7 linked regions of the Homo sapiens genome follow. The protein of the gene in region 3 purifies or fractionates together with the protein of the main gene of each other region. This does not show direct contact. Each region holds a gene or a part of one and is shown on either strand. Other genes may lie near its edges.

Region 1 (3,500 bases), on a different chromosome or scaffold from region 3:
TTTATAAAAGGTGCTTTCATATGTTTACATACACTATTCATACTTATTAGCAAAGTCAAAAGCAAAATCTCTTTTCAATAGATTAAACACACAAATACTTCATGAACTTGAGCCAATTTGTGTGAGTACTGGTTGGGAGCATTTGGGTCCAAAAAGGGCCTAGTTTTATCATTTACTCCCCTTGCAGGCAAAAAATCTTGAAAGGCTTCCATGTCCTACAAAATAAATGCAACATGGTTAAATGGAAAGACTGCTGGGCTCAAGAGTAGAAATCAAATCCTGGTTTCATACCCTACGGGCTAAACATAAACTTAAGCAAATTATTGGACATGCCTGAATATCACTTTCTTAACCTGGAAAATGGTAATAGCGCTACCTACCTTACAGGATAGTTGAGAATATTACATGACATAGGGGAAAGAACCTATTGTTTCAAGATGGGTTAACCTGAGTTTGAATTTGAATCCTGAGCCTAATTTTCCTTAGCATTCTGTAATTCTGTACCAACCAACCCCAACTTTATCTTCTACTTCCCTGCTTTCAGACTCATCCAAAGCCTGGAAACGACAGTAGGGATCTTCAAGAACCGTAACATGGAGCTTGATGGGCCTTGAGTAGGACTTAAAAAACAGCACACATCATCACAACAAGATTCCATTGTGGAACCCTAAAGCTGGCTGCTGACACACTCAGCATCACTCCTCACCCCATCCAGTAAAATGGTCTATGGGATATATCCCATGTACCTTTCTCTCACTTAGACTACAAGCTTCTGGAAGATAAAGAACATATCCAATAGAGAGACTAATAAAAATCATGAAAACATAAATGGCAATACAAGAGGCATTACAAGGCACTCTGTGATTCTGCACCAGAAAAGCTATATCCCTTCAGGTGTGCTGCAACACATTAGCAACAAATTAGCTGCTAACAAATTAGCAACTGTTAAGTGTCTGTTAAATAAACTACTTACGTTTTCATATTGCTGCCATCTTCCCAGTTAAAGATGGCAGTGGGAGGGGAGAGAAGAGAAGGGTGGCTAATGGCTACCTGAAGGTGCCTTAAGTTCTGTGGCTCTAATTCTCCTCAAAATTGCCCTTACGGAGCTCAATCAATACTATAACCAATGAACTTGAGATTAACTAAACTCAAGAAAACAAAACTGAAGGTATAGGAGGGAGGGGGAATGTTCAATTTTCGGTTGAGGTTTCAGATGCCATTCTTTCCACAAACCTAACTGAATGCCTACAATGTACATATACTCTGCTAAGAGCTGGGGATTTGAAGAGAATTGTTCATTTTCTTTCTTTTTTTTTTTTGAGATGGAGTTTCGCTCTTGTTGCCCAGGCTGGAGTGCAATGGCGTGATCTCGGCTCACCGCAACCTCCACCTCCTGGGTTCAAGCGATTCTCCTGCCTCAGCCTCCCGAGTAGCTGGGATTACAGGCATGCACCACCATGCTGGCTAATTTTGCATTTTTAGTAGAGAGGGGGTTTCTCCATGTTGGTCAGGCTGGTCTTGAACTCCTGACCTCAGGTGATCTGCCCGCCTCGGCCTCCCAAAGTGCTGGGATTTACAGGCGTGAGCCACCGCGCCTGGCCGGATTGTTCATTTTCAAGGAGTTGAATGTCTCCTAGAGATAGAAATATGAAAATAAGGACCATAAAATCGTTTTATATATTACAATAGACACACAGAACAGGCACAGGAAGAGAACTGGACAATAAACTCACAACACACACACAAAACCCAATCAAAATAATATGGGTCTCTCTTGGGTATTTTAAGCAATTTTTTAAAAAGTACCCTGAGGAATAATGCTTATTACACACCTACCAAGTGCCAGACACTAACAAATACCCTACTATTTTATGTCCCTATCAAGGAGAACAAGTATTCTATTAATCCCTACACTGTCCTATGAGTTACAGCACACTTCTCTCTCAACAGAGGAGGAAACAGACTCAGAGAGATGTAGTCATTTGTTCAAGGTGACAAAACTATCATCTGTAAGTGCTGAGGTCTGTCTGACTCTTCATGGTTGACAGTACCACATCTATCAATAGTTTTCAGGGCGTGGTCCAGGGGCCAGTCCCTCTGTTCTCTCAGGAGCATAGAGTGGAGTTTTCCAGAGGTTATAGGACATGTGGTTATCACAACAGACTGAATGCAAAAACATATGAGAACACAGCTGTATTCTGTTAGAGCAGACATTAAAACATTGTACTAAAAAACAAAGAATGTCATTCTTACTTAATTTACTTATTTTGAGACAGAGTCTTACTCTCTCACCCAGGATGAAGTGCAATGGCACGATCCTGGCTCGCTGCAACCTCCGCCTCCTGGGTTCAAGCGATTCTCTTGCCTCAGCCTCCCGAGTAGGTGGGACTACAGGCGCTCGCCACCACGTCTAGCTAATTTTTGTTTTTTTTAGTAGAGATGGGGTTTGGCCATATTGGCCAGGCTGGTCTCGAACTCCTGACCTCAAGTGATCCACCTGCCTTGGCCTCCCAAAGTGCTGGGACTACAGGCGTGAGCCACCACGCCCGGCTATTCATTTATTTTTTAAGACAAAGTTTCACCATGTTAGCCAGGCTGGTTTCGAACTCCTGAGCTCAAGTGATCCACCTGCCTCGACCTTCCAAAGTTCTGGGATTACAGGAGTGAGCCACCACACCCAGTCCATTCTTACTAAAATGTTTTGTTTTAAAAACTATTATTATTCGGCCGAGTGCTGTGGCTCATGCCTGTAACCCCAGGCCGAGGCAGGCCGATCACCTGAGGTCAGCAGTTTGAGACCAGCCTGGCCAACATGGTGAAACTCTGCCTCCACTAAAAATGAAAAATTAGCTGGGTATGGTGGCAGGCGCCTGTAGTCCCAGCTATTCAGGAGGCTGAAGCAGGAGAATTGCTTGAACCTGGAAGGCAGAGGTTGCAGTGAGCCAAGATGGTGCTACTGCACCGACAGTGAGACTCCGTCTCAAAACAAACAAACAAACAAAAAAACCCAAAAAACTACTGTTATTCATAAAAAGTATTATTGTTTACTACTTTAAAATAAATCAATAAATATTTTTAAATGTCTCACTGAGTTTTAATTTCGAATCTGGTAAATATCAAAGGATATAACTCACATAAACAAAATGTCTTTGAAGTCCTAAATAAGTTTTAAGAGTATAAAGGGGTCCTGAGTCCAAAAAGTTGAGGAGTGACTGTAAAGACCCTAAAGAGATGCGGTATAGTAAGCCTAGGGGTTAGGGTGATGCTCCCCCATGACCCCAAGATCTCTATCCTTAAGGTCATTTAGCTTGAGCACTGCCAAAAGTGAAAGTCTTAAACTTCTGCCAATTAAATCTAGAGCTCTAATTTTAATTTTGACATTGCTCCCCCTCAGCCCTGAACTGAGCCATTAAAAACAGATTTGAGTACGGCAGCCCCCACACATAGCTTGTTCTAATTAGGCTATCAGACCCACAAGTTCAATCTTTTAAGGCCTCAAC
Region 2 (3,325 bases), on a different chromosome or scaffold from region 3:
TCAACTTAACCTTCAGGCCCTCTCCCTTTCCTGGAGTTTGGAGGAGGGGCTGAAAGTCCCAACCCTCTAACCCTGCCTTGGTCTTTCTGGTGACCAGCCCCATTGAAGCAGCCCAGGGGCTGCCAGCCATCAGTCAGTGCCTAAGCATACAAAAAGACATCATTTTGGAGATTCCAGGAATTTTAGGAATTATGTACTGGGAGAGAGGGTCAAACACCAAATATATATTTCACAATATGAAAGAGCCCAATTTACGTATTTCACGATTCCCTTCTTGTTACAGCTTAACGAGATTTTTTTATTTTCCTGACTTTTCGCTTTGGAGAATTAGTCAATAGTTTAGGTCTGTCTTGTTCGTTTAATATGGGGTTTGAATTTGAGATGGGGCTGACGTCACTTTGGGGCCCTTTTCTTTTCTTCTTTTTTTTTTTTTTTTTTTTTGAAACGGATTCTCGCTCTGTCGCCCAGGCTGGAGTGCAGTGGCACGATCTCGGCTCACTGCAAGCTCCGCCTCCCAGGTTCACGCCATTCTCCTGCCTCAGCCTCCCGAGTAGCTGGGATTACGGGCGCCCGCCACCACGCCGGGCTAATTTTTTGTATTTTTTAGTGGAGACGGGGTTTCAACATGTTAGCCAGGATGGTCTCGATCTCCTGACCTTGTGATCCGCCCGCCTCGGCCTCCCAAAGTGCTGGGATTACAAGCGTGAGCCACCGCGCCCGGCCCCTTTGGGGCCCTTTTGTACAGCTCAGAGTTGGCCTGGCTGCAGGGCTGGGACTATGGAATGGCAAGGAGGTGCCTCAGGTGCCAAATATTAGGTTGGTGAAAATTAATTGCGGTTTTGTCATTGAAAGCAATGGCAAAACCGCAATTACTTTTGCACTAACCTAATATAAGGAGGCGTGCAGTCTGGGGGTCAGAGTGAGTGTGGAGGTCTCGGAGAATGGCTGCTGGCCTGGAGGAGGCTGCTAGGTCTGGGTCCCTGCCAGCCTTGTGGGGACCAACTGCTGTATCTTGCAGGAATTTGCACGCTGGGTATGCAAGAGGCTTCATCTTTTTTGGAGTCTGGGAGCGCTGCAGTGGCAGAACCGACACGGCGGGAGGCGCTAGAGGACCCGGGGTGGACTCGGACGTGGGGTCAGGGAACCTGGCATTTATTCCTGCCCGGACTGCCCACTCATGCTGCGGAGTGTGGGAGGCGTGGGGAGATCGGCCGCCAGAGGGACGTGCGCCGTAGCCAATCAGCGTGTGAAGCAGGGCGCTATGTGGTTGGGGCCTCCCGTAACTCTTTACGGCCCCAGAGTGGCCCCCAGGTCCCCGGCATCCCCACATCGCCCTGTGAGGCAGATGAGCAGAGCCGGAAGGGCCGCACGGGAGGAACAGGGGTTGGCTTGTCCGGAGGCGGACGGATAACGCGACCCCGATCCCTGCGGTACTCTGCAGTCATGTGACTCGCCGCCTGGCGCATTTCTTCAAGTGCCCACCCCCTCGAGAAGGTGCCCCTGGGGTGGGGGCTTCACATCTGCTTTTGTTTAGTGGTCAGAGGACTACAGAGGGAAGCTCTCAGGACAAGGCCCCCAACCCTGTACTCCAGTCCTGCATCCTTAGGCCCCTCTCATGGACAATAGGGTCTTAGAAAAAGCGCCAGGGTGCTGGGCATGGACCCCTCAGGACAGACGCATTGGGAGGGGTCCAAGGAAACCATGAGAACCTCAAGCCCAGGTTGGGGAATCGGCCCGAGGGGAAAGTGGGTGTCTCTGGGCCTTGTCCTGCCTGGGTCCTGGACAGGGGGCTAGGTGGCTGCCCAAGCTGCAGTCTTGTGTCTAGGCTAAAACTGTAAGCTGGGAAAGACCCCATGGTCTGCCCACCACCCAGTTGACCCCCAAAAGACAGAAAGGCCACCCCACACTGGCCTGGAGCCCCAGTCCTGAGGTGCTGCAGCACCAGTGTGGGGTGGCCCGGCACTTGCCCCTACAGGGTTACAACCCATCCTTTCTGCTTCTCCAGGCCAGAAGCCAAGGAGTCCTCAGTGACGGTGGGATCCACAACATCTCCACATCGCTGTCCCCACCCAGCCAGGGCAGCGCCAGCACTAGCTCAGACGCAAGGTTGGTGTGAGAACCAGTGGGTGTGGCCAGGCGCGGTGGCTCACGCTTGTAATCCCAGCACTTTGGGAGGCTGAGGCGGGCAGATCACGAGGTCAGGAGATCGAGACCACGGTGAAACCCCGTCTCTACTAAAAATACAAAAAATTAGCCGGGCGTGGTGGCGGGCGCCTGTAGTCCCAGCTACTCGGAGAGGTTGAGGCAGGAGAATGGCATGAACCCGGGAGGCGGAGCTTGCAGTGAGCCAAGATCGTGCCACTGCACTCCAGCCTGGGCGACAGAGCGAGACTCCGTCTCCAAAACAAACAAACAAAAAGAACCAACGAGCAGAGGAGCATGTGGGCCTTCAGACGGGGATGTGGCTGGATCTGGTTGTCCCACCTGCCAGGGCCAGCTGCAGTGCTATGGTCTGCAAAGTGCTGGCAGGTGCCTGGCCCATGCTCCCTGTGACAACACAAACTGAGCTAATGTCCCCAGAGTGTTTAGCTCTGATGCTTGGTGCCCAGGGACACTGATGTCTGTTAACATGGACAAAGTACACCAGATGCTGTGTGGTCATGGGCTCTGTGTCCACTCCATCTCTGCCACTCTGTGGCCGTGTGGATCACCCTGGCATGTCTCAGTGTCCTCAACTGTGACTGGGTCCATAAGAACAGCCTGCTGTCATAACAGGGGTGGGAGGTGGGACTGGAAACAGTCCTCAGGGTGGAAACCCTTCGTCCGTGCTCAGCATGTGGGAGGCCCATTGGTAGTGGCTGAGTTCTTAGTCCATTAGTCATTCTGATGGCCCCTTGTGGAGGGTGTTTACTGTGCACCTTTTCCAGATGGGGAAAGTGGGGTTGGATGGGGCTGACGTTCCCAAGGCTGCCAGGAGAGGAACTGGCAGAGCAGAAGCCTAGTTCCATCAGGCCCCCTGTCAGTCTTGGCCCCAGCGAGCAGTGAGGCAGCCCCATCTGCCCCACCTCCCTCCCAGATCCACGTCTAGAGCCTCCCAAGGGCTTCCACCACTGACGGGATTTTGCTTCCTTCCTTAGGACGGAACCGCTGGACTCCAGGTTCCTTGCCTGGGAGTAGGAGAAATCCACCTGCTGGGGGCTGAGTGTGGCCTGAGGGACAGGCCCTGGGTCCCGGGATGCCCCTGCCCGAGCCCAGCGAGCAGGAGGGTGAGAGTGTGAAGGCCAGCCAGGAGCCATCCCCCAAGCCAGGCACAGAAGTCATCCCG
Region 3 (3,500 bases):
AAAAAGTGCGGTGCATGTGTGTTTGTGTATATATGTATATATGTATATGTGTGTATACATATATATGTATATGTGTGTATACATATATATGTATATGTGTGTATACATATATATGTATATGTGTGTATACATATATATGTATATGTGTGTATACATATATATGTATATGTGTGTATACTATATATGTATATGTGTGTATACATATATATGTATATGTGTGTATACATATATATGTATATGTGTGTATACATATATATGTATATGTGTGTATACATATATATGTATATGTGTGTATACATATATATGTATATGTGTGTATACATATATATGTATATGTGTGTATACATATATATGTATATGTGTGTATACATATATATGTATATGTGTGTATACATATATATGTATATGTGTGTATACATATATATGTATATGTGTGTATACATATATATGTATATGTGTGTATACATATATATGTATATGTGTGTATACATATATATGTATATGTGTGTATACATATATATGTATATGTGTGTATACATATATATGTATATGTGTGTATACATATATATGTATATGTGTGTATACATATATATGTATATGTATATATACGATGGAATACTACTTAGCCATAAAAAGGAATGAATTACTGGCATTCGCAGAGACCTCGATGAGATTGGAGACAACAATTCTGGGTAAAGTAACTCAGGAATGGAAAACCAAACATCACCTGTTCTCACTCATAAGTGGGAGCTAACGGCTAGGCATGGTGGTTCACGCCTGTAATCTCAGCACTCTGGGAGGCCGAGGCGGGTGGATCACTTGAGGTCAGGAGTTCAAGACCAGCCTGGCCAACATGGTGAAACCCCATCTCTACTAAAAATACAAAAATTAGGCGGGCATGGTGGCATGTGCCTATAATCCCAGCCACTCGGGAGGCTGAGACAGGAGAATCACCTGAACCCGGGAGGCAGAGGTTGCAATGAGCTGAGATCGCGCCACTCCACTCCAGCCTGGGCAACAGAGCAAGACTCCATCTCAAAAAAAAAAAAAATAGTAAGTAGGACCTAAGCCATGAGGATGCAAAGTCATAAGAATGACACAATAGACTTCAGGGACTCAGAGGAAAAGGATGGGAAGCGGGTGAGGGATAAAAGACTGGGTTCAGTGTATACTGCTCGGGTGCACTGTTCAGTATACACTGTTCAGTGTATACTGCTCAGGTGCACCCAAATCTCACAAATCACCACTAAAGAACTTACTCATGTAACCAAACACCACCTGTTCCCCAGTAATCTATAGAAATAAAAAATTAAAAAGAAAAACAGAAAGAAAAACAGACAAGTGGTCTCCGAAGACTTGTTCTCCTCAATTCCATGAGGAATCCCATGGTTCCTCAAAAACACTTGGAGGCGATGGGGTACTTCCTCCTGCTCTTGTTACTTAAGAAACAAATAAATAAATAATCCAAAATTGTCAGGGATCAATCATTTTTGTCTTCATTTAAAATTAACCCAGAGTCCAGATTTACTCTATCAGACGAATATGTAAGAGAAAGGAAATATGATTCACATTCAATTTATTTTTCAAAGTGTTTCTGGACAAAGTAAGACATTTAATAACATGGAAAGTAACCGCTGAAAGGAACAAGAAAAGGAACTGCACCTACAGCAAAATCTCACCCACCAGCTCTTCCGCGGCCCCCGTCACAGGAAGGTCATCTCCACTCACAAACAAGAAGAGAAACCCAACTGGCGGGGAACACACAATCACTGCCGGAACAAGACTCCGGGGCTTCCCTCTGCATGGAAAACAGGACTGAGGGTTCTTACCCAATAAACAATCTCTTCAAAACATAAGCAAAAGGCAATACAGATTTATAAAAAACACAAGAAAGCAAGGCGGCCAGAAGCAGCAGCCAACATTCTGAGGAAAGAGGCAGGGCTCTATTTGGTTCCTAGGCCTGAGCAGGACATAGGACATAGGAAGAACCCTCCGAGCTGACTTCAGTCCCCTGGGTTTAAACACACTTTGTGGAGGTTACCCAGTGACCACCCCCAAGGCCGCTGACCAAGGTACTCCTGCCCACATCCAAGTGCAGGACTCTGCTGAGGGAGGTGCTGGGCCACCTGCCATTCCCTGTCAGACATCCCTCGGCACAGTCCCCAACTCTTCACAGCTGCTGTAACAAATTACCACAGCTTAAAACATGCATTCACTATCTCGAAGTTCTGAAGGTCAGAAATCCGGCATGGGTCTCATCACACTGAAGTCCAGGCGTCAGCCAGCTGTGCCCCTTCCGGGAGGCTCGAAGGGAGAACCCCTTTCCTGCTCACTCCGGTTGGCGGCAGAATTCAGCTCCTGGCGGATGCAGGAGCAAGGCCTTGCTCTCCTGTTAGCCATCTGCAGAAGGCCTTTCGCAGCTTCTAGAAGCCGCGCCACATTCCTGGTGGCTGCCTCCTCCATCTGCAAAGCCAGCCGCTGTGGGTGGAGTCCATCCCACACCATGTCTCTGACCACGTCCAAAAGCTCGTGAGGTTACACTGGGCCCACCAGGTAACAGGACAATTCCCCCATTTCAGGTCAGCTGATTAGCGACCTTAATTCCCCTCTGCCATGTAACAGAACATATTCACAGGGGTCAGGGATGAGGATGAGGACACCTTTAGGGGGCCAGTATTCTGCCTACCACACTCCCATCCCCTCAGGCCAGCACCCTGGAGATCACCTCGACCCCCAGCACCCCGCCCATCAGTGAATCCTGAGTGTGCCATGTGTACCCTGAACATGCCCGATCCTCTCCAACCCCACAGCATCTGGCCTCGGCCTCCTCAGAAGCCCACCAGTTTCCTCTCTCGCCCTCTCTTCAAGGATGACAAACAGTGTCACAGTATCACACCCCTCCCTGTTTAAAACCCTTCAACACTCTCTCATGGCTCTTAGGACCACAGCTCAGATCTTCACCATGGCCTTGGAAGCAGCTCCAGTGCCTGCTCACCACCCTCCATGCCCCTCCTCCCCAGTCAAGCGCTCCCCACTCCTATACACCCTCCCCTGACCTCAGCAGCCAGATCGGTTCCTGCTGTACAGCCAGGTCTCGGCGGAAGCGGGACCTGTGTAAGGAGGACATGAGCATTCCACCCAGTGAGGGCCTTGCTACTCTGCCAGGGTCCCGGGACTGCCACCTGCCCAGCACTGCAGTCTGTGCGCATGTGTTCACAGGGCAGGCGTCCAGCCGTGAAGAGCCACATGGCTTGCTCAGCACGCACCACAGCACCTGGCACAGGAGAGGAGCTCGTAAACGTTTTCCAAATGAATTCATTATCCCCAACAGTGCCTCTCCTTCGGCTGAGGACGGACTGTGGCCTATTCAGCCGACCGTCTGATTTGCTCACAGACATCTCGTGGCTCTGGCAATGTAAGCTGAAGGCTGTCAGAGCCACATCACTAAGAACCCTCTTGTGCTCCAGCTTTATCCCAGCACTCACATCCTTGCCATGCTC
Region 4 (3,500 bases), on a different chromosome or scaffold from region 3:
GAGGTTGCAGTGTATCGGCTCCAGTTAACACACTGTCTTCCTCACCTTTTGCACATGGAGCCTCTAGGGGGCCTGCTAGGGTGACCACCAATGAAGGCACCAAAGGGACAAATAACTCAATGGACTAATGACCCACTGTGGCCACTAGGCGTCAGTGTGAGCTTGCTTGGCTCACTAAAAAGGATGGGGTGTGGGCATCCCCAGTTGCTGCCCACACCCCCATGGTTCCCTGGGGAGAGACAATTTATTACACACCTACCAGGTAAGAATACTCCATGCTAGATGCTCTTCTGCTATATCTCATTTAATGCTCACAACCCCAGGAAGCAGGTCCAGGTCCACAATCCCTTATTTGAAACCCTTAGGACTAGATGCATTTCAGAATTTAGAATTTTTCACATTTAGAAAGGCAATGGTTGTGCATAGAGCGTTTACTGTGTAAGATCCCCAGCAGCATCTGGGCCACATCCCATAGTCACACATATGAATACATCTGCAGTGAAACTTAAGACTAAATTAAATAAAAGACTATGAAGAGCCTTGGTTCAGGCTGCACCATCGAACCACTTTTAGTTTGAATAAGGGACTGTAGGCCAGTATTTTATCTTTTGCAATATACAGTATACAGAACTGGAAACCGAGGCCCAGAGAGTGTAAACCATTGACTAATAACAGGCTGGTTTAGACCTGGGGACTGCCTGACTCCACAGCCAATGCTCTACCAGCCCTTAGTCCCCATGGTTCAATCCAGGGAATGAAAGATGTGAAGAAGGCAAGCGTTTGTCCTGGGGACCATAGGGGGACTCTTAGTTTGTGTTTCTCAAACTAAGAGTGTGCTTCTCAAACACACCCCTTCTTCCACCCCCCTGCTCCAGACTGCTCCCCCCAGCCCACTCACGGTGCACATCCAGCTCGATGGAAGTCTCCTTGCCACTAGGGATGGCTTCGTTCATGCTTCGGCAAGTGAAGACACGCCCTATGTCCAGGTCCGTGGGGTTAATAAGCAGTTGGCTCACGGTGGTCTCCCTCTTCCCATCCTTCAGCAATTCCTGGAACATGACAAGGGTGGGAGATATGGTTAAGCTAAAAGCCCCCTCCTCTGCTCTTAAGTTGACCTCACTCAGAGATGGGCTTGGGCTGGAGGGGTACTTTAACTTAAAGCTCAATCCCCTTCACTCCCACAACCTCTTCCCTTGTGTGTGTGTGTGTGTGTGTGTGTGTTTAATCAATAGACTACTAATTATCTTTTAATTAAAAGTTATATATTTTTAGGGTCTTGCTATGTTGCCCAGGCTGGCCTCCAAAGCTTGGACTCAAGCAATCCTCCTGCCTGAGCCTTCTGAGTAGCAGCGACTACAGGAGTGTGCCATCATGCCCACATCACAGACTATCTTTTGGAGCAGTTTTAAGTTTACAGAAAAATTGAGCAGAAAGTACAGGGAGTTTCCATATACCCTCCTCCCCGACCTTACACTTTCCCCCATTACTAACACCTTAACACCTTGCATTAGAGTGATAAGTCTGTTACAACTGATGGACCGAAACTAATATATTATTATTAAGGCCACAGTTTATATTAGAGTTCACTCTTTGTGAGTCCAGCGCAAATCCCTTCTCTTCTGGAAAGCCTTCTTCAGCCAGCCCAGCCCTCAGAACTCTCTCCCAGACTGAATTTATGCCCTTATAGTCAGTGTGTCCTGCTCACAGCTCTAGACACATCCAACCTTGCTTGTAGGCACCATGTGTGCGTGTTTCAGGGTTGGGTTTCTTCTGCTAAACTGTAAACTCCTTGAGGGCAGGGAAGGGACTCACAGGCTCGAAGTCTTACACTTGCTCAGTGACAGCCAGGGGTCCCTAAATATGGTCACAGGAACCCTTGATCTGTTTTCTATATTGCAAACTGCCTGAGGGAAGCCATATTATTAATCAAAGTAAGACCCCGTTGTTTGACCACCATGCATGCAGCTTTGCTGGACAGGCCCAGTTGAGGGCCAGTGCAATAACACTGGCTCCCTTGTGCTGCTTTGAAGCTCCATTGTCTTTAATGAATATGAAAAATGGGGGTAGATGACAAATGGATATTAACAAACCAACTTGTTTGGTTGCCAAAATATCTAAAAACATGTAGCCCTGATGAAGAAAAATCACAGTTTTTGGTTGTGAAAAGGTTAAGTACCACTGAGGCTGAATTATCATTTGTCAAATGAGAAACTAAGGCCAGAAAAAAGTGAAGCGAATTATCCAAGGTCACACAGTGTGTTAAGGGCAGAACTGAAGCCAGAAGCCAGGTATTCCTGGGATTGCTTGCTGAGGAGCATGGGAACATCTCTGTCTCCACACTGAGAAGTGCTCCTGCAGCACCAGCAAAGGGCTGAATACACATATGTTTACCCACAACTGGCAGGGTAACCCCAACCAGGAAATCTGGCTTTGAATTCCAGCTGTACTGTCCGCTTTGCTATGTAATCCTGGGCAAGTCACTTGATATCTTTCATGGCTTCCTCATCTATAAAATGTATACAAGGATCTCTGCTTCCCCAGCCTCTTTGTTGTGATGACTGGAATAATCTGACAACCAGACGCTGAAGGAAAGAGGTAGAAGTGATCAGTGGAGAGAAAGCACAGTCAGACCCAGGTACAAACCCCCGCTCTGTGCCAGCTGTGTGACCTTGGACAAGTCACTCAACCTCTCTGAGCGCAAGTTTCCTCCTTTGTGAGTTGGAAATAATGCCTCCTTTATGGGACTCCTATGAAGATTAAGAGAGACTGTCCATAAAGTGTTTAGCATGCACGGTGTCTGGCACACAGTAGGTGCTTAATCCATGGCAACTTATTATTACTATTAGTCTCTGTTCAGCTACTGAATGACACAGTAAACCTAGGAATTCATTTCTCTTCTCTGGGTTTCAATTTTCCCAACTGTAGAATGAGAGGGTTGAACCAGATGACCTCTAAGACCCCTCTCATGTCTGTGTGCTCCTGAGTCTGTGGTGAAACCCCTGTGGGAAAGGAGAGGTGAGCTGGGCTAGGCCCAGGAGGAGCTGGGGGAGCTGGCTGGAGCTCACCGTGCTGGCCACAGCGCCCTCCTGCTGCGTCCCGTCCCGGAACCAGATGATGGTGGCAGCAGGCTTCGCATTGAAGGCCCGGCATGTGAGGTTGTGGGGGGTGCCTGCCTGCAGTAGAATCACAGGGCCTCCGTCAATCCTGGTGTCCTCTGGGGGGACTGTGGGAGAAAGCAGAGCAAAGTCAGTGCAGGGTGTGGCTAACACTTCCCTGAAGACCAAAACTCCTGCCTCTGGAAGCATCCTTCCACCTGCATGTGCGCCTCTAGGTAGGCGGTACCACCCTACCCCCTAATCTACAACCACTGTCTTCATTGCTCTTGTGGTGGCTTCCTCTAGGTCCTCAGCTCACACATCTTTCCCAGTCCTTGTCTGCTTTTCTTTCCTGGCCTATAATATTTTCTGGTACTCCATGCCCCTACTGGTTTATTGTTTGTT
Region 5 (3,500 bases), on a different chromosome or scaffold from region 3:
AAATCCTGTCTATAGAAAGTAGAAAAATTAACTGGGCATGGTGACACACACCTGTGGTACCAGCTACACGGTAAGCTGACGTGGGAGCCTAAGGAGGTCAAGGCTGCAGTAAGCTGCGATCATACCACTGCACTCCAGCCTGGGCAAGAGTAAATCCCTGTCTCAAAAAAAAAGACTTCTTCACTATAAGAATTATTAGACCCTCTCTAGGAAAGGGAAGAAGAGTGGCCAAACAATCTTGCTCATGATTACAAGGCAGCAGAGGTGCAATGTCCCTTGCCCTTGACTCAAAAGGCCACACCGTCTTCTCAGACACCCTCACCAAGTAAGGGTAAGCCATTCAAGTTCCACAAATCACAGGAAAACAAAGGCCCAACTCCTACTCCTAAGCACAGAGCACAGCCACCACAGGGGGATCAAAGGAAGACAACAAAAGTCACCCGAAGGAGACAGACCCTGAGAATTAAATCTAAGAACTGAGATTCTAGTGACATACATCAACACTAAGATAGGACAAAAGTATAGGGTATTCCAAGAAGGCACATTCAGGGACTTCAGGTGAAAACGGTTACAATCACAGACAAAACATGAACAATTTCACTAATGCAGTCAGATCCAAACCTGCTATTAGCGATAAGGCTATGACTGCATTAACTATAATATGAATCTTTTCAGAAAGTAGAAATTCAAGATAGAATTGCATCTTTTGTTCAAATAATGCATTACAGAAAAGCTGAACAATTAAAATCTGTGTATTTTTACATATCTCATTGAATACATGATATACCTTAATTTTAAAAAGAAATGAACAGAAAAAATACCACTTAGACTCTAACATATTTCAATACAATTTCAATATAACAGGTTGAGTTTGAGGCAACAGTTAATTAGAATGCTCATTAACTTATAACATGGTTGAGATGAAGAAAGATACATTGTCAGCTTGTAATTGCTGTTCTTCAACTACAATGCAAGTGACACCAATTGTTTAGGTCTGTAATCTTTATGCTCCCTTCTGTGGAAGGCAGTGGCATCTCTCTCACCTAGGAGTAGCTCTGGGTTTCTCAGCAGGGCAAGGCCAGCGATCATGGCTTTGTGGTGTTCACAACACAGGTAACTCTTATCAATGGACTGCCCCGGGGCTGCAGGGAGGTCCTCCGCATCAGCAGGCCGCTGCTTCTTCCTGTCCTTTTTCCGCTTCTTCTGGGCTAAACAAGAGATATGAAGCCCTATGCTTAGTACACTAGTCCTCAGGAAGCAAGGGTTACTGGCAGCAGTGTGCTCCAGATGGCTTGAACACTCAAAAGACCCAATCGTTAAAATTTTGCAAACTGGTTGACATCATGTTGATAGCTTGAAACTGGCCGTAGTGAAATCATCTGGATGTTTGTCCCCTACAAATCTCACGTTGAAATGTGATCCCCAATGTCGGAGCCACCATGCTGGTCACGGGGGCAGATCCCTCATGAATGGCTGGGTGCCTTCCCCATGGTATTGAGTGAGTTCTCACTCTAGAGCTGTTGTTGAAAAAAGCCTGGCATCTCTTTTGCTCCCTCTCTTGCTATGTGATGTACCTGGTCTCCCTTCACCTTCTGTGATAATTGTAAGCTTCCTGAAGCCTCACCAAATGCAGAAGTTGGTACCATGCTTCTTGTACAGTCTGCAGAACCATAAGCCAAAATAAAAGTCTTTTCTTTACAAATTATCCAGTCTCAGGTATTCCTTTATAAGCAACGTAAAACAAACAAATACAGTGGTGGTATTTATACTAGAGAACTGATAAACACTATAAATTAGGATGTGCCCCCCCTACCCCGCCCCACAAAGACATAGTCATTAAACATTTAACATATACAATGGATACAAGGAAGCTGGAAAAGGAAATGGCAAATGCACACTCAAAAACCTGGGAAAACTCAACTGAGGAGCCCTGGTACCTCCCGTCTAAGAAATGTAAGGCCACTAACAGGAGAAAAGATTACTCATAAAGTCTTTTAAAGAAAGGTAAAGTTACTAATCACCTGCTATGTGCCAATTACTATACCGTAACTTTTATTTTTTTAGCTCTTCTAACAACCTTATCATTCCAATTCTTGGCACATGAACACACTAAGCCACTGAAGTGTTAAGTAAATAGGGAATCAGCAGATGGTAGAGATAGGAGTTGATCCTCGGACTGCCTGTCTCCATCACCTATCATCTTTCTGCTATGCCACACAGGTAGCACTACCAACCTTTGCTGAAGAAGGAAATCACAAGTATTCAAAAAAGGAAATAAATCCTAAAAAGCCACTCCACTTTCCCTCTCACCACTCCCTTCCCTGCTCCAGGGTATCATACTAAACGGATGGCTGTGTCTTCATAGGGATCAGCTGCATTCCCCAGCAGTAAAAAGTGCTGATGAGTGGAGTCGGGGTGCTTTTCAGATATATTAAATCACTTTTTAATATGCTCTCCTTCTTGCTCACCAATACTCCCATGAGGGAGAACGTTCTTTCCATGAGAACAAAGTGCTACCAAGAAATCAAGGAACATGACAATGGTGAAAAAACCTGAAACCCAAACTGAAAGGGGCAAAATGTTCTTTTAAGCAATTTTACTGAGATTTTAGTGAGATGAAACTGGACCAACCTGCAGCCACAGTGACCAAACAATAGGGCAGAAACCCAACAATCTTGGGTGCTCTTGGCCAGGGAAAACCCCTAAAGAAAAATACCATTTCGCTGGGTAACTTGATTCTAGGCTCAGAGCCAGTCTATGACCTCAAGCATCTGAATTCTCTGTCTCCACCCTCCTCCCAGATGGCCTTGCTATGAGGGCAGGCCAGTCAGGCAAAGGGAACAACTGGGAATCAGGAGAGCCATTTCAGCTTCCATCCTTGAATCTCTGCGCCTCAGACAGGGAAGATGCACTGGAGACGGAGAGGTGAGGGGCATTCACTTTTCGCGGTCTATATTTGACTTTTGAAGTGATTTCAATGAACAAGTATCACTTTTAAAATACAAACTAACACAGGTAAAACAAACTATTGATTCCCCATCGGGGGAGTTTCTGAGTGACAGCTGGGAGACCACTTAAAGGGATCCTAGAAGAGATGGTTTAGATCTACACTGTCCAATACTAGCCACTAGCCCCCTATGGCTGTTGAAATATAAATGTAAATTAATTAGAATTAAAGAAAATTAAAATTCAGTTCCTCAGTTACACTAGCCACATTCCAAACGCTCAGCACTACATATGGCTAGTCGCGACCACATTAGAAACTCAGGAACTAAACATCTCCTTCATCACAGGCAGTTTTACTGAACAGTGGTATACTAGAAGGCCTCTAAGTCACCCGCCAATCCAAAACCCTCTGAAACAGGTGAGTCACACTATGGAGGGCAGGGCTCACCTGCAACTTCCATAGTTCTGGCTCACCTCACAGAGGCCTATTGAAACAATACACAGATGTATATGGAGCACCTGCAAAACAGATGCCTTTAAACCGAAGACATTAA
Region 6 (3,500 bases), on a different chromosome or scaffold from region 3:
AGAAGCTTTTCTTTACACCCTATGTATTTACATATTTATTGAGTATGTATTCTTATTTAATTCAATAGGTTTATAATCCATTTTATTTTGATATTCAATAGCACCAGATACAGTAAGTGGGAGCTCCTTCAAGCTGATTCACATGTCCTTCTGACATATCCCCACCATTTGTCTGAGCACTTCCTTGGCTTTCTGATATATGATGTTCCATTTTGTACTCTCCCTGTACCACCCCTTAAATCAGTCATTTCTCTAAGCGCTGAGTCTTTTCAGGAGATGCTTTTTAGAAACAAATATCTGGGTCTCAAGATGTGTTCATTGCTAATGACATACCAATTCTTCTGGGCCTTTTCAGCAGAAACAACTAGAAGATATATTTTTATCAGTTCTATTTTTAAAAATTATATCCAACTTAAGAAAAACAATACATTTTCCACTACGGCATTTGGGCAACACATATTTTACAGAAATAGCCACACAAAAATCTATGTAGTGAAATGCTTGTAATTATTGGTTAATTTTTCGTTTTAAACATTGTACAAATTTTTGTTCTACTACACAGTAGGCTAGTGATATAAATTTTTCAATTTTATAAAAACAAAGCACAAATAAAACTGTAATTTAACCATTTAAGATATACAAGTCAAAGCTAGAAGAGCCTCTTTTCTGACATAAAATAAACAGGATTTAACAAAGACCAAGAATAATTAATATTTGAAAAATAATACAGGGGGCTTTAAGCCTTTTTTTCTCCTAAGACTATAAAATATACTAAAATTAAATTAGCAAGTTAATCAGAGGAGAGAAATTAATATGGGAGGAGAGATATTAAATGAATTAATTTTAAAATACTAATTCCTTTGACTTCCTTCACTCCCATATCTACTGGAATTTTCCAAGGATGTACAAATCCTTGAAAACAACTACTCTATCATTTCCACTTAACAAAAAGAAGTAGTTGGGTCATAATTTTGTGTGGAAAAAGAGAAAGTGGGCTATTCATATGGACCTATACAAATCCTTGGATGCTTGGACATTACTGCACATCTGATCTAGACAGGCTGATAATAAGCAAGTCAAATGGACAGAATATACTCTAAAAGTTTTGGTTTTTTTTTGGGGGGGGGGTGGTTCCTCAATCTGTTCCTCAGGTTATTAAATTTTATCACAGACTTAAGTAATCATTTACCTAACCAGCATTTATTAAATATCTACTTTATTTCCAGAGCTGAGCTAGGTGTTCCCTCCCCTCCTCTTTGGCCTTATTAGCAAGTCCTTCAGTGCTTCTTTTTACTCACTCTACCACCTCTTCTGCTTCACTCCACCTGTTCCCTGCCCTCTGTAAGCCTCACAGTATAGTATAACATTTCAGCCACCCTCTTGGAAGAATCCTCAGGATATTTCTGCATGATAAGATTAAATGTTAAACTTTTTCTAAGAACACCTGCTCTTCAGGTATACCACTTTGTAAATTGCCAATATGAAAGGCTAGCTAAGAATTTCCCAGCAACATTAGATGTCTGAAGCTCTCACACCACTAATTACACTCTCCTATCTTTAATCTCTCTTTCAGTCTATAAAAGTGCTCACATATCTTGCATATTAAAAAAAAGAAGCTTCTAGAAGAAAAGCTTTTCTTCCCATTTATTCAACTCACTGTAACACTGTAATCTGGTTGTTTTTATTTTATTTTTATTTTTATTTTTTTCGAGGTGGAGTCTTGCTCTGTCGCCCAGGCTGGAGTGCAGTGGTGCGATCTCGGCTCAGTGCAACCTCCGCCTCCTGGGTTCAAGCGATTCTTCTGCCTCAGACTCCCAAGTAGCTGGGACTACAGGCACACGCCACCACACCCAGATAATTTTTGTATTTTTAGCAGAGACGGGGTTTCACCATATTGGCCAGGCTGGTCTCGAACTCCTGACCTCGTGATCGCCTGCCTCGGCCTCCCAAAGTGCTGGGATTACAGGCATGAGCCACTGAGCCTGGTCTGCAATCTAGTTGTTATCCTGGAACTTCTCCCTCTTCCTCACTCAAACAAGTTATTTATTCATGGTTACTCTTTCCTGTGTTCCTCTATTATTCCTCACTCCAACTGCTTGTATGTCCTAACTCATCTCCTTGCCTCTAATCTCTTCTTCAAATGCTCCCTTTTCCCACCTATCTCTTTACACGCTGCTGCCAAAATACTCTTTATAAAACCCAAATATCATATTTCTCCCACGCTTAAAACAAATCTATGACTTCTTAGTGCCTAAAAATTAAAACCCAAGTCTTCATCATAGAATAGAAAGTCGCATATTATCTCACCCGTCCACCTGTTGTTATGGAACTCTTCATACCCCTTGAGCCACCCACACTGTTTTGTACCATAAGCTCCAATTTTTATGAATGATATATAAATCTCAAAACCCTGATGTTGACCACAAATGTCCTGTGCTCATCCTGCTCCATCCTCTGGAATCCTCAGGGTCCACTCCTGACTCTTATCTGTCAAGGTATAGCTCAATATCACTTCCTCTTTTAAGCGTTCCTGACTCATATGAGTAGAGCCCATCAGTCCTTTCACAAGACCACACTGTGTGTGTTTACCTCTATTACAGCATGTCACACTTTAATGTAATTAATTGTTAACATCTGTTTTCCACTCTAAACCGTGAGTTCCTTGAAGTCAATAGTTGCTTTTATCCATCACTATATTCCCTATGCCTATCATTCCTAATAGGTGTTCAATAAATATTGTTGAATAAGTGAAATTAAAAAGTAGAATGCAAAATTTTTTTTGAATGATAAAAATAAAAATAAAAAGCAGAATGGAAAGTGAGATTATAATCTCATACAGATAACATAAACCTGACTATTAAACATCCTTACCTGGTAACTAACTATTTTCTTTCCATCGCCTCTAGTCTGAGGTAAGGTCAAAGGCCCAGATACCACCCAAACATCTTCAAACCTTTCTGTCAGCTCTCGACAGTACATTTCTATTCTGAAAAACAAATAAAAAAATGTATGATATTCTCACATATATACATGTAAGACAGCAGCAAATCATATCAATTCCTATGAAAGATACCAAGAAAAACTGCATTTGAGAAATTAAACAAGAACATGGCACAAAACATTATAAGCATATAAACAATTATTTTCCCAGTTTGCTTACTGCACAGAAAAAACTTAAAAATCACATACACTAACAAAACTATCTACATTTTTCTTTATGTGCGCTCAGAGTACATTCTGGAATTCAAATTTCATGAACTTAAAACTTTTTTTATGCCATAGTTCCCAACCAGCTTTCAAGAATTATGTATCATTCCAACAAGATGATATACTTTATTTAACCATTCCTCTTGCAGGACAATTGGGCTTATGTTAACATTTCTTATATAATGCAACGTTGTATCAATTCCTTAGGATAAATTTCAAGGACCAGAATTACTGAATGAATTTATTTTAAAGACTCGTCATCATATGTAAAACTAACATTTTTAATAGGGTTA
Region 7 (3,500 bases), on a different chromosome or scaffold from region 3:
ACCTACACCAGAATACAGCAACTCAAAAGCAGGCAATTCAACATGAGGTAACTGTAGCTGAGCCCCAGAGCAGCTGTACACACAAGAGGAAAATATGGTACGTGATCTAAGAAGTTACGTCTCACTTTTGAATTGACCTTCCACACAGTCGAAAAGATTAGACCTACCCCCACAGGATGCCACAGAGGGTTTCCCAAGCCAAAGTACAAGCAAAAGTCTAGGCAAAACACAGCTTGCCTCTAATGAGTGACACGGACTGTAGAAGCAGCTGAATCCCAGGAATGACCCATGAGCTCCTCTTGGGTTTACACTGCAAGAGAGCTGAGTCACTCAACATGCCCTGAGATAAATGGGTGCAGCGATAAGAAGGATCAACATCCCAGCTCTTCTTTGAAACACATCAAGAAACACATGAAAATTCAAGGGTTACCCAGCCAGAGCTGTTCTGCTGCTCAGGTGGACCTAGCAGGCTTGAGTCAAACTCCAAAGATCTGCTTTTCGTCAAAAGACAAATAACAAGTATAAAAAACTGAGAACCAGATGCACTGAAGTTTATAGCAGAGCCCAGGGGAACATACAGAGAGAAGAGAAGGCCAAGTACCAAAACACTCACATTTAACAGCTGGTATGGAAGCCAGAAAAGGAGGAAGAACTAAGCTTGCCAGAGTGTCATGGAAGCCAAAGCAAAAACGAGTTATGAGACAATCCTGTGGTCAGTATTGCCAAATAGTCCCATGAGGCCCTGCAGGTAAGGACAGAGAAAAGACTATTGGATTTAGCAGCCAGGGAGAGGTTGAGCAGTAGGACCCAGCGGGCAGAGGATACAGGGTAGAGACTAAGGAAATGGAGGCCATGGCTGGTGACCACGCACTTGAGAAAACCTGGCAGTAAACAAGAGAAAAGAAATGAGTAAGAGGGAGCATCTGGCAAACATGTGTTCAAGGCAGAGGCCTGTGTTTACAGCACAATGTAGGAGCTGGAGAGGAGAGGAAATAAAGATGCATGAGAGAGAATAATGACAGGCTCTCTCCACTTTCTGAATGATGTCAGACTCCTAAGGTTGGGACACCTTGTTCTCAAAGAGAAGACATTTGACTTAGGGGATAGGTTGGAAAAGTACTTCTATTATGGATCAGGCAGTGACATGCAAAGAAACTGAAATCCAAATAGGTGAAGTAATGTACCCAAGGTCACCAGAGAGCCTGTGTCCCTCAACATCAAAATGGCCTGCCTTGAAAGCCCACCCTTTCCACCATGCCATCAACTCCACTCCCACTGGAAACAGGGACTGTTTCAATCACCCCACGCCCACCTTGTTCTCTAATCAAAACAAGAAAAGATATCAACACTGAATTACCCAAGTCACTATTATACTGAATTTTCACATTTGCAAAACCGTTTACAAGAATCCAGAGTTTATTTGTTTGTTTGCTCATTTATTTATTTATTTTGAGACAGGGTCTCACTCTGTTGCCCAGTCCGGAGTATAGAGGCGTGATCACAGCTCACTGTAAACTCAACCTCCTGGGCTCAAGCGATCCTCCTGCCTCAGCCTCTGAAAGCGCTGGGATTACAAGCATGGGCTACCACGTCTTGCCCAGAGTTTTAAAAATATATAAAAACAGGCCAAAGCCACCCAGCTTATCCATTTTCCAGGACTGCCTCACTCTACTTAACTATGCATCAAGCACTTACGATTCTCTGGGCATCCTGCACTTGACTAAGGACCATGAGGGTATAGAAGAGACAGTCATGTCTCCTGTCCTCAAGGAACTTGTGCTGAGCAAATCTCTACTGCTCTATGTCTTACATTCCCCATAGATAAAATGGCCCATCTTCTCCCATGTGCCTCATGAATAACCTATACAATTTGATTCAAGGAAAAATCAAGATCCCTTAGCACTTCATTTAGAAAGGCCAGGGTGCATCCACTGAGCAGGGAAAAAGAGAAATAGGCTCAAGGTTGATCCAGAGACAGTGGGTCTCATTATTTCCTTTCCATCCTGATTCCACAGGGGCAGAAAACAAGGGCAGCACTCCCTCACTCATAAGATCACTCATTTGGACAATTCAGATGCCCTGCAACCATAGGCCTCAATCCTACCAAATGCCCAGCTAAGGCTTAAGGCTATTTACCCCAAGAGAGTCACCAGACAGCGTAGAGCCATGTCAGGCTGAGGCCGGCAGTTTTAGCTGCAGACAGGCACATGTGCCCTCATCAATATTTGAACAGCCATATGCAACTGGAAAAATTGCTTCTTTGAAAAATGGCATTTAGCTTGCCACCTGCTGTCGATCCCAAACAGAACAAATCATTCTTGTCCTGCATGGTAAGCATGATTACAGGCTCAGCTAGCTACCTCCAGCCCTGGTATTCTACTCTGACGCCAAGAGTCCAGATAATACAGTTAATTCTACATCTCCTAGTTAGTGAGTCAAGACATAGCCATAATCTCCTCCTGGCTCCCACCCCTCCCTAGCCTTTCCCTGCACTTTCAAGAGGCTATTTCTACATCTATAGTCTTCTTTCACTGGGCATTGGTAGCACAGCTAAATAATATTCTTAGAACTTTGCTGGGCCGGACGTGATAGCTCATGCCTGTAATCCTAGCACTGTGGGAGGCCGAGGCAGAGGATCCCTTGAGCCCAGGGGTTCAAGACCAGCCTAGGCAACATAAGGAGACCCTGTCTCTATTTAAAAACAAAAAACAAAAGAACTCTGCGAGTGGCACAGTACTTGGGTTTACTGTTTTGCGCCCAGGGCAAATTACTGTGAATTTTAAATTTTCTAGTTGCTAGCCCATGTTCATGAGAAAAGAAACATACCTTTTGACTAAGGAAAGAATTGTTAACTCAGACTATTTTACTAATGATCCCAATGGTCATGCTGGTTGAGTCTCCATCCCCATATGATTAATCTAAGCTGATAATATAAATCCCATTCTCCTTTCCAGCCATTGGCTTAAGAATGGTCATATGACCGAATCCTTACCAATAAAGCTTTAAGAAAAATCAGCTAGTGGGCTAGTAAGAAAAGTTTCTTCCATTCTAAAAAAGGGACACAAGAAAGAGACAACTTCTCTTCTTCCTCTGGATGTTGTCATTTTGAATGTAACCCCTGTAACTCCTATGTCCATCACACATCCAACCTGAGGATGAAAGCTGCACATGGGCAGAACCAAGGTCCATTGAGGAACTGCTGAATCAGCCAACAAGGAGCTCTATTTCTTTTTTTTTCTTTTCTTTCTTTTTTTTTTTTTTTTTTTGAGACAGAATCTCACTCTGTCACCAAGGCTGGAGTGCAGTGGCATGATCTTGGCTCACTGCAACCTCCACCCCCCAGGTTCAAGGGATTCTCCTGCCTCAGCCTCCCGAGTAGCTGGGATTACAGGCGCCCGCCACCACGCCCAGCTAATTTTTGTATTTTTAGTAGAGACAGGGTTTCACCATCTCGGCCAGGCTGCTCTTGAACTCCTGACCTTGTGATCCACCTGCCTTGG

The links.
Region 1: the proteins of TBC1D22A (region 3) and SUPT6H purify together in Homo sapiens (affinity purification with mass spectrometry; 3 studies listed by BioGRID and IntAct, with this or other methods). This does not show direct contact.
Region 2: the proteins of TBC1D22A (region 3) and FLYWCH2 purify together in Homo sapiens (affinity purification with mass spectrometry; 3 studies listed by BioGRID and IntAct, with this or other methods). This does not show direct contact.
Region 4: the proteins of TBC1D22A (region 3) and KIRREL1 purify together in Homo sapiens (affinity purification with mass spectrometry; 3 studies listed by BioGRID and IntAct, with this or other methods). This does not show direct contact.
Region 5: the proteins of TBC1D22A (region 3) and METTL13 purify together in Homo sapiens (affinity purification with mass spectrometry; 2 studies listed by BioGRID and IntAct, with this or other methods). This does not show direct contact.
Region 6: the proteins of TBC1D22A (region 3) and EXOG purify together in Homo sapiens (affinity purification with mass spectrometry; 3 studies listed by BioGRID and IntAct, with this or other methods). This does not show direct contact.
Region 7: the proteins of TBC1D22A (region 3) and CREB3L2 purify together in Homo sapiens (co-immunoprecipitation; one large-scale study listed by IntAct). This does not show direct contact.

Annotation. Positions count from the first base shown.
Region 1 is NC_000017.11:28,668,705-28,672,204, reverse strand, and holds part of SUPT6H (transcription elongation factor SPT6), read right to left. Parts: exon of another isoform or gene 974-3,500; intron 1-973.
Region 2 is NC_000016.10:2,893,215-2,896,539, forward strand, and holds part of FLYWCH2 (FLYWCH family member 2), read left to right. Parts: intron 1-2,005; 5' UTR 2,006-2,106; intron 2,107-3,137; 5' UTR 3,138-3,235; coding exon 3,236-3,325.
Region 3 is NC_000022.11:46,769,150-46,772,649, reverse strand, and holds part of TBC1D22A (TBC1 domain family member 22A), read right to left. Parts: intron 1-3,500. UniProt on the Homo sapiens protein: May act as a GTPase-activating protein for Rab family protein(s).
Region 4 is NC_000001.11:158,084,145-158,087,644, reverse strand, and holds part of KIRREL1 (kin of IRRE-like protein 1 isoform 1 precursor), read right to left. Parts: intron 3,224-3,500; coding exon 3,066-3,223; intron 1,050-3,065; coding exon 899-1,049; intron 1-898. UniProt on the Homo sapiens protein: Required for proper function of the glomerular filtration barrier. It is involved in the maintenance of a stable podocyte architecture with interdigitating foot processes connected by specialized cell-cell junctions, known as the slit diaphragm.
Region 5 is NC_000001.11:171,788,160-171,791,659, reverse strand, and holds part of METTL13 (eEF1A lysine and N-terminal methyltransferase), read right to left. Parts: intron 1,209-3,500; coding exon 1,044-1,208; intron 1-1,043. UniProt on the Homo sapiens protein: Dual methyltransferase that catalyzes methylation of elongation factor 1-alpha (EEF1A1 and EEF1A2) at two different positions, and is therefore involved in the regulation of mRNA translation.
Region 6 is NC_000003.12:38,506,340-38,509,839, reverse strand, and holds part of EXOG (nuclease EXOG, mitochondrial isoform 1 precursor), read right to left. Parts: intron 2,987-3,500; coding exon 2,872-2,986; intron 1-2,871. UniProt on the Homo sapiens protein: Endo/exonuclease with nicking activity towards supercoiled DNA, a preference for single-stranded DNA and 5'-3' exonuclease activity.
Region 7 is NC_000007.14:137,992,087-137,995,586, forward strand, and holds part of CREB3L2 (cyclic AMP-responsive element-binding protein 3-like protein 2), read right to left. Parts: intron 1-3,500. UniProt on the Homo sapiens protein: Transcription factor involved in unfolded protein response (UPR).